Homo sapiens: one gene and its partner. The protein of the gene in region 1 interacts with the protein of each later gene in a biochemical or structural test. Each region holds a gene or a part of one and is shown on either strand. Other genes may lie near its edges.

Region 1 (5,270 bases):
ACATCACATTGAGAAGCCCATGATGGCAGAATCTTCTGCCCAGGACTTGCTGATGATGGGGAAGGAATGAACCCAGAAATTCATTCCTACACTGTTGGACAGTCACTCAGCCTGTTGCCCCCTCGCAAGATAATTTGTGGTCTCACACACAAGCATGTACTTGTCATATAAAGTGTATCCTCCAGGGTGGGGAAATTAACTGAGCACTTACATTCTAAGCTAGCTACTTCTTTTTTTTTTTTTTTTTTTTTGAGACGGAGTCTCACTCTGTCACCCAGGCTGGAGTGCAGAGGCGCGATCTCGGGTCACTGCAAGCTCCACCTCCCGGGTTCACGCCATTCTCCTGCCTCAGCCTCCCGAGTAGCTGGGATTACAGGCGCCCACCACCATGCCCAGCTAATAATTTTCTTGTATTTTTAGTAGAGACGGGGTTTCACCATGTTAGCCAGGATGGTCTCGATCTCCTGACCTCATGATCTGCCTGCCTCAGCCTCCCAAAGTGCTGGGATTACAGGCAAGAGCCACCGCGCCGAGCTGCTACTTCTTTATTTACATGCATGAGCTTCCCTGATCATCATAATAACCCAATGAGGTGAGTATACTATTTTTCCCATTTGAATAAAAAGGCAATGAACACTCAGAGAAGTTGAGGAACAGTAAGGACTCCAGAGAGGAAGTGGTAGAGTCAGTAAGAGCTGGGTGCAGACTCCACCTCTGCCTAGCTCTAAAACTTGGGCTTTTAAGAAAAATGGGAGTGCATTTCACACGTGGTTTTCTCAGGAATTTTTGTGGCCTGGCTTTGTCAGGAGAGGTTTATGGAGGGTGAGGAAATTGAGCCAAGGCTTGACATTTGTGTAAGATTAGGATGGGAGGAAAGAAAGGGCAGTGAGGTTTTGGTTCACACTGATAATAACATCAATAACGGCTTCCGTGTACTGAGTATGACAACATCATATGCGTTCAGGCTCCGTGCTAAAGGCTTCCCGGCCATTACCCATTACTCTTTAAACTTTGCAACAATACTCTAAGGCCTCAGCAACTATTATCCCCCATTTTCCAGGTAAAGGATGTGGGTGCAGAGAAGTAAAGTCATCTGCCTAAGGTCAAACAGCTAAGGAGCAGGGCAAGGCTTTGAACAGCTCTGCCTGGCTCAGGACTCTTATAGCTTTATGTTCAGTCTCAGCTGTTCAGTGTCTGCTGGTTTTCACCCTAAGGTCCTGTCTATTTGGGCTTCTGTTTGCTTCAAGTTTGTTCAAAGTGGGAATAGCCATCTGAGTAAGGTTTTACTAATTTTTTTTTTTTAGTAGAAAATCGGGCCTTTAAGGGAATGGACATATAAAGGACACTGCTTCAATTAAACAGGTGACTGTTTTCAAAAGCTCAACTGAATTTCTGTCTAAGCAGGAGGATGCCAAGCAAAGAAAAGGTACTGCAAAAACATCCAGCATTAATTCGGAGTCTCTGCCCAGTTCCCGCACTCTGCTCTAATGTGCCCGAAGCCATGTAGACAGCTGGATTTAATCACTGTTCCAATCTCTGATCACCTCCCAGACGTATCCCCTGGGGCTCGCTGTTCCAGAGGAAGCATTTGGCTGTTTGCTTGAGCATCACTCGTTTTTGGAGTACCCTCCTTGAAGGAAGAGCCCCATTGGACTCAGCCCACTCAATTAATAATGGTCCCCAAACTCAATAGTAAGAGAGTCACCCCAGTTAATCATGAAGGTTATGGGTCCTGAATTAATAGAAAACGGCTCTACCAGGGAAACTGCTAATTGGAGCAGGAGCTGAAGGCAGCTGACCTGGAAAATGCTCTTTCCTCCATGACCCATTTAGAACCCCCAGCTGTCCAGGCAGGGCGGGCGTGTGAAGGGGAGGACCCTGTGGATGTATTAAACACCTACTATGTGCCCACATCATGCAAGGAGCTTTCTCTTATGTTATCTCATTTAATGCTCTCAAAAACTCTTTTCAATGAGTACTACTATTCCATTTTTTAAAATAAACAGAAGCCCAGAGATGCAAAGGAAGTGGCTTAAGATCTTGCACCTAGGCTGGGTGCAGTGGCCCATGCCTGTAATCCCAGCACTTTGGGAGGCAGAGGCAGGAGGATCCCTTGAGCCTGGGAGATCAAGGCTGCAGTGAGCCATGATCACTCCACGGCACTCTAGCCTGGGCGACAGAGCGAGACATTGATAAAACAAAACAAAACAAAACAAAACAAAACAAAACAAAACAAAAACACCTTGTGCCTAGAAAGTAGAAGGGTCAAGATTTGCAAAGGGTCCCTTGATCTCCAAAATCCCCTACTTTAAAAGTTGCAATTCCAGGGGATGCAAACTCAAATGCCAAGAGGAACCTGGCAGATAACACAATAGCGTCAGCACTAGTAATAGTAATAATAACTTCCAAGGGGCTTGGAGCAGAGTGCCAGCCTCTATTCTAAGTGATTTACAGTATTCAGCTGTTTAGTCATCAAAGAACCCAATGTGGAGTGCTATTATTATCCCCAATCTGCAGATGCCGTCAAACAACTTCCCCAAGGTCCTGCGGCAATTAATGCCTGAACCAGGATTTGAACTTGGAGAGAATTGGCCAAATGAGAACGTCTGAGAATTACAGAGGGCAAGCTCCAACTACAGAGGGCCATGGTTTCCAATCCAGCTGACTGGTGCTTTGTAAGAATGACAGGCCAATGTGGCAAGATCTGATTTTTCAAGAGAAACCTGAAAGCTGAATGTTTTTGAGAAATCTCTGGATCCTTATATGCTGGTAATTATTAAACAAACTAAAAGCTCCAGGTACCACCTTCTCTCTACCCGCCCCCACCCTTCAATAACTTGTCTACGGGGGCCTGTGGAGGCCTTCGTGTGTGCCTTTTTTTTCTTTATGGGCTTTGCTTGGGTTCCTAATGCACCTCTGGGACTCCCCTCTCTATTCTTCACTTTCTTTCTCCCTGCCTCACACCCTCAAAGAAAATATTTTCAAGCAATTCACTTTAGATGTTCGGGATTGAGACTAATTCACAGGTGGTTTCCCCAGGGATACATGCATCTTAGCCTATGCAGCTGAGGTGCAAACCTTAGGTGATTCATTGAGAGTGGGAATTTAGGCAGTGTGACAAGGCGCTTTTAGGCTGAGAGGCTGGCCCAGCTATTCCAAACTGGGCCAAGCCTCAGATTGGCCTGCCTGAGTTTCCCAGCTTTCCTTCACCCAAGACAGTGCATCCAGCATCTGGCTGGGGTCAGGAAGAACAAAGTAGGGCATGAAAAGTCTGCAAGCATCCCACAGATCTAGGACTGGCAGCCCTGGTTTATTCAGACACACAGGTGGGAACCCACTGATTAAGGCACGGCCATGTTCTAACCTGTACCACTGGGTGGAGGGAGAGCAAATCCTTTATTAGTATATTATGTGTAGAACATATTTTCTGGGCGTCTAATTCTATTGCTTTCAGGCTTCCATCAGAGTTGAAAAATCACTTCATTTGGACAGTATTTTTAAAGGCAGTGGTCTGCAAGCCAAATGGAGACTTTTCCAAAATACTCATACCCAGACTTAATCTCTGGGGTAAGGCAGAAGCATGTGCATTCTGGTAAGGCACTTCGGGTTATTCTGATGGCTCCAAAGGTGAGGGTCGCTGATCTTTAGGATCTCACAGAAGTCACTGTGAGTATGCCCTGGTCCAACACAAGATGCAAAACAAACAATCCTTCCCCATAAACACACATCCTGCTTTCTTCACAGGTGCCCTGTGCATAAACCGTAGATGTCCAAGCGTGCATGCCCTTTTAGCCATTTGTGTGTGTGTCTGGGGAGAGGAGACAGTGGGATTTTGAGTACATTGAATTTCAGTCTGCTTATCTAGAGAATTCCTTAACCTCAACACGGCGTGGTATTTTTTAGAACAAAAGTTGCACGCTCTTAGTATTAACTAAACACATACAGCAGAGCAGGGCAAGATAGCCTGAGTTGTGCAAAAGACCTCTTGTGCCCTTTCCCATGACTTCCAGCTCTTTGACAAAATCTCTGTGCTTTCTACCTCATTCATTCAATAAGCATTCCCCTGTGCTGGTTCAGAGACTGCAGCCCAGCCAGCAGCAAGACGCAGCTGCAGGCAGCTCTCTACAGCACTTCTGTGCAAATCAGAAAAAAAGCTCTCTCTCCTCCGGGAGGTAGCAGCTCCACATCAGGGTTCTCATATTGGCAAATGGAGTGAAGGGTGGAGTTCAGGCTGTGTTCCCCCCTGGTGGGGTGTTCTTGGGCAAGGTACAGCCCACATGCCTTTATGTGGTGGTCCTGGTCACAGCTTTAAGAGATGCACTTACCCCTTTGCAGATGGCCACAGCTTCCTTGGACATAGACTTGGGATAGGCTACGTTGTGTTCCATGATGGATTGGAAGAGTTCATCTTCATCCTCCCCTTCAAAGGGTGCCTGTATGACAGGGGAGGGTGGGAGGAGAAGAATCCCTGCTTGAACCCTCCCCCTAGCTCCCCTCAACTGGCAGACCCTCCTCCCTGGGGCCCACAGTGAAGCCACACACCCAGGCTTTCAAATGACCACAGACTTGTATGACCCCAAGGCCGGGAAAGTCATAGAGGTTCCAATTTATGAGCTGTTACCAAACATGCATTCTCCTAAAGAAACCATGTGGATGGGGGTAGGGAGGACTTCTCTTATCGATCACTTAAAATTCAATTACCTGCCCAGCCAACATTTCATACAGCAGGACTCCAAATGCCCACCAATCCACGGACTTCCCATAGGGCTGATAAGCAATTATCTAGAAAAGAGAAGGCACCCTATCAGGGAGGTTTGCAGTTCATGTTTCTTCTGGAGACAGATTTCACTCTTCTTTTACAAGAAGGCCAGTGCCCACCTGAACTGTTTCTTTATATTAGCTATTCAGGGAATGACAGACATGCTTTGCAGAGGCACCTGCAGCTGGGCAAACACCTGTGGCTGTCACATTGCCTTTTCGAAGCACTAAGTAAGGTGTATTGTTATTATTATTTTCAAAACAGTGAGCATGGAATTTTTAAAAGGAAAAACTGTCTTTACTCCTCTGTAAAAGTTACAACATTTACACAATAATGTAAATATACTTAACACTACTAAATTGTATACTTAGAACTGGTTAAAATAGTAAATTTTACGTTACATGTTTTTAAAACATAATTAAACATAAAAACGTTTAAGAGATAACAACATTTGTCACTATTTTAATATTTCTTTATAAAAGATAGCTCAGCTGAGATAATAACATGAAAA
Region 2 (3,500 bases), on another chromosome or scaffold:
TATTAAAGCTGCTACTATGGCCAGACTTAGAGTCATTTTTGTCTACAGCCCACTTCCTTAACAGGGTGTGATACCTTGGGGGGCAGAGGCTGGCTAACTCATCCTCTTTTCTTCTTTATCCCATCCCCACTGAGCCCAAGACAGGAACTCAATAAACATTGAGTTGACTTCAAGTGAATGAGATTGAGCATAATCTCTTTAAGGGCAAGGATTATGTTCTTCTGTACTCCCAGAACTCTGTGCATAGTAGGCTCAATAAATACTTCTATTAAGTTGGAATCTGATCTACACAGTGCACTTCAAAGCTAAATAGAGGCACACTTCATTTTGCTATGCTTCACTTTATTGTGCTTCACAGATCCTGTATTTTTTACAAATTGAAGATTTGTGGCCACCCTGCCTTGAACAAGTCTTTCTGTGCCAGTTTTCCAACAGCATGTGCACATTTTGTGTCTGTCACGTTTTGTTAATTCTCACATTATTTCAAACTTTTAAATTACTATTATGGTTGTTATGGTGATCTATGATCTGTGATCAGTGATCTTGGATATTCCTATCGTCATTGTTTTGAGGCGTCCTGAGCTGCATCCATGTAAGATGGCCAACCTAATTGATAAATGTTGTGTGTGTTCTGGCTGCTCCCCTGGCTGGCCATTCCTCTCCTTAGGCCTCTCTATTTGCTGAGGCACAACAATATTGAAATTAGGCCAATTGATAACCTTACTTTGACTTCTAAGTGTTCAGGTCAAAGAAAGTGTCACATGACTCTCATTTTAAATCAAAAGCTAGAAATAATGAAGCTTAGTGAGGATGGCATATCAAAAGCCAAGACAGGCCAAAAGCGAGGCATTTTGTGCCTCACAGCCAAGTTGTGAATGCAAAGAAAAAGATCTTAAAGGAAATCAGAAGTGTTACTCCAGCAAACACACAAATGATAAGAAAGCAAAACAGTCTTATTGCTGATGTGAAGAGAGCTTTAGTGGTCTGGACAGAAGATCAAACCAGCCCCAACATTCTCTTAAGCCAAAGCCTAATCCAGAGCAAGACAGTACCTTTCTTTCATTCTATGAAGACTGAAAAAGGAGAGGAAGCTGCAGAAGAAACGTTTGAATCTAGCAGAGGTTGGTTCTTGAGGTTTAAGGAAAGAAGTCCTCTCCATAATGCAAAAGTTCAAAGATGAAGCAGCAAGTGCTGATGTAGAAACTGCAGTAAGTGATTCAGAAGATCTAACTAAGATAATTGATGAAGGTGACTACACTAAACAACACATTTTCAGAGTAGAAGAAATAGCCTTATATTGGAAGAAGATGCCACCTAGGGCTTTCATAGCTAGAAAGGGGAAGTCAATGCCTGGCTTCAAAATTTCAAAGGACAGGCTGACTCTCTTTTTAGGGGCTAACACAGCTGATGACTTTAAGATGAACCCAGTGCTTATTTACCATTCCAAAAATCCTACGGCCCTTAAGAATTATGCTCAATCTACTCTGCCTATGCTCTAAAAATGGAAAAACAAAACCTGGATAATAGCATATCTGTTTAAGAATGGTTTACTGAATATTTTAAGCCCACTGTTGAGACTTACTGCTCAGAAGAAATGATTCCTTTCAAAATATTACTGCTCATTGACTATGCACCTAGTCACCCAAAGGCTCTGATGCAGATGTACAAGGAGATAAATGTTGTTTTCATGCCAGCTAAAACAACGTCCATTCTGCAGCCCATGGATCAAGGAGTAATTTCAACTTTCAAATCTTAGGCTTTAGCTGTCATAGACAGTGATTCCTCTGATGGATCTGGGCAAAGTAAATTGAAAACTGTCTGAATAGGATTCACCATTCTTGATGCCATTAAGAACATTCATAATTCAGGGGAAAAGGTCAAAATATCAACATTAACTGAAATTTAAAAGAAGTTGATTCCAAACATCGTGAATGGCTTTGAGGGGTTCAAGACCTCAGTGAAGGAAATAACTGCAGATGTGGTGGAAATAGCAAGAGAACCAGAATTAGAAGTGGAGCCTGAAGAATGGATGAGGAGTTGCTTCTTGTGGATGAGTAAATAAATTGTGGATGAGTAAATATTTTATCTTCTTGAGATAAAATATACTCCAGGTAAAGATGCTGTGAACATTGCTGAAATGACCACAAAGGACTTAGAATATTACATAACCTTAGTTGATAAAGCAGTGGCAGGGGTTGAGAGGATTGACTCCAATTTTGAAAGAAGTTCTACTATGGATAAAATGCTATCAGACAGCGGTGCATGCTACAGAGATATCTTTAGTGAAAGGAAAAGTCCATTGACGCAGCAAACTCACCGTTGTCTTATTTTAAGAAATTGCCACAGCCACTCCAGCCACCAGCAACCACCAAACTGGTCAGTCAGCAGCCATCAACATCGAAGCAAGACCCTCCACCAGCAAAAAGAGATTAAGACTCACTGAAGGCTCATTTTTAGCAATTTAGCATTTTTTAGCAATCAAGCTTTTAAAATTAAGGTGTATATATTGTTTTTGGGTGTAATTTTATTGCACACTTAATAGGCTACAGTATATTTTACACTGTATATGTGTATATATATAGGTAAATATATTACAATGTATACTTTTTGTAAGGCTTTAGCTGCCATGGATAGTGATTCCTCTGATGGATCTGGGCAAAGTAAATTGAAAACCATATGAATAGGATTCACCATTCTTGATGCCATTATATTTACAGTATATTACAGTATATTTTATACTGTGTGTATATGTATATATTCACATATATGTATATATACATATATGTATATACTGTATACACTTAATAGACTACAGTATATTTTATACTATATATATTTTATTTAATTCTATTGTGCTATTCTAATAATTCTATTTCTTTTTATAAAATATACTTTAGTCTATTAAGTGTACAATAGAATTACACAAAGTTATATATATGTTTACATGTGTACATATATAAATTACATATACTTATATGTATAAAAGTTTTAGATACATATATGTATATATAGTATAAAAGTAGTATAGTATAAAAGTTATGTGTGTATATATACATATATAGTATAAAAGTAGCACAGTTTAAAAGTTATATATATCTATATATACATACATACATATGTATATATGTATAAGTTATATATAACTTATATGTGTATATATACATATAAGTTATATATAACTTATGTGCATGTGTGTGTGTGTGTGTATATATATATAACTTTTATATGCACTGGGAAACCAAAAAATTTGTGTGACTTGCTTTATTTTGATATGTGCTTTATTGCAGTAGTCTGTAACTGAACCTACAATATCTCCAAGGTATTTGTGTACAAATGATTCCTAGAGCTGTCCTCCTCCATTCCTGTGGCTATTCAAGAGCTTTGCTGTAAAACTGGTATTTTAAATGTTGTGATTGGTTTGGAGGTGGGCTCTCACTCCCCCACCCCCAGCCCACCCCTGACCCCAGGGATGCCCATTATCCCAAGAAAGGGGTATGCCC

The links. Proteins that work in one complex are often made in the same cells at the same time.
Region 2: of the proteins of PRKCB (region 1) and SYT6, one has a biochemical effect on the other in vitro, tested with the Homo sapiens proteins (one study listed by BioGRID).

Annotation. Positions count from the first base shown.
Region 1 is NC_000016.10:24,184,623-24,189,892, reverse strand, and holds part of PRKCB (protein kinase C beta type), read right to left. Parts: intron 4,783-5,270; coding exon 4,702-4,782; intron 4,434-4,701; coding exon 4,326-4,433; intron 1-4,325. UniProt on the Homo sapiens protein: Calcium-activated, phospholipid- and diacylglycerol (DAG)-dependent serine/threonine-protein kinase involved in various cellular processes such as regulation of the B-cell receptor (BCR) signalosome, oxidative stress-induced apoptosis, androgen receptor-dependent transcription regulation, insulin signaling and endothelial cells proliferation.
Region 2 is NC_000001.11:114,140,370-114,143,869, forward strand, and holds part of SYT6 (synaptotagmin-6), read right to left. Parts: intron 1-3,500.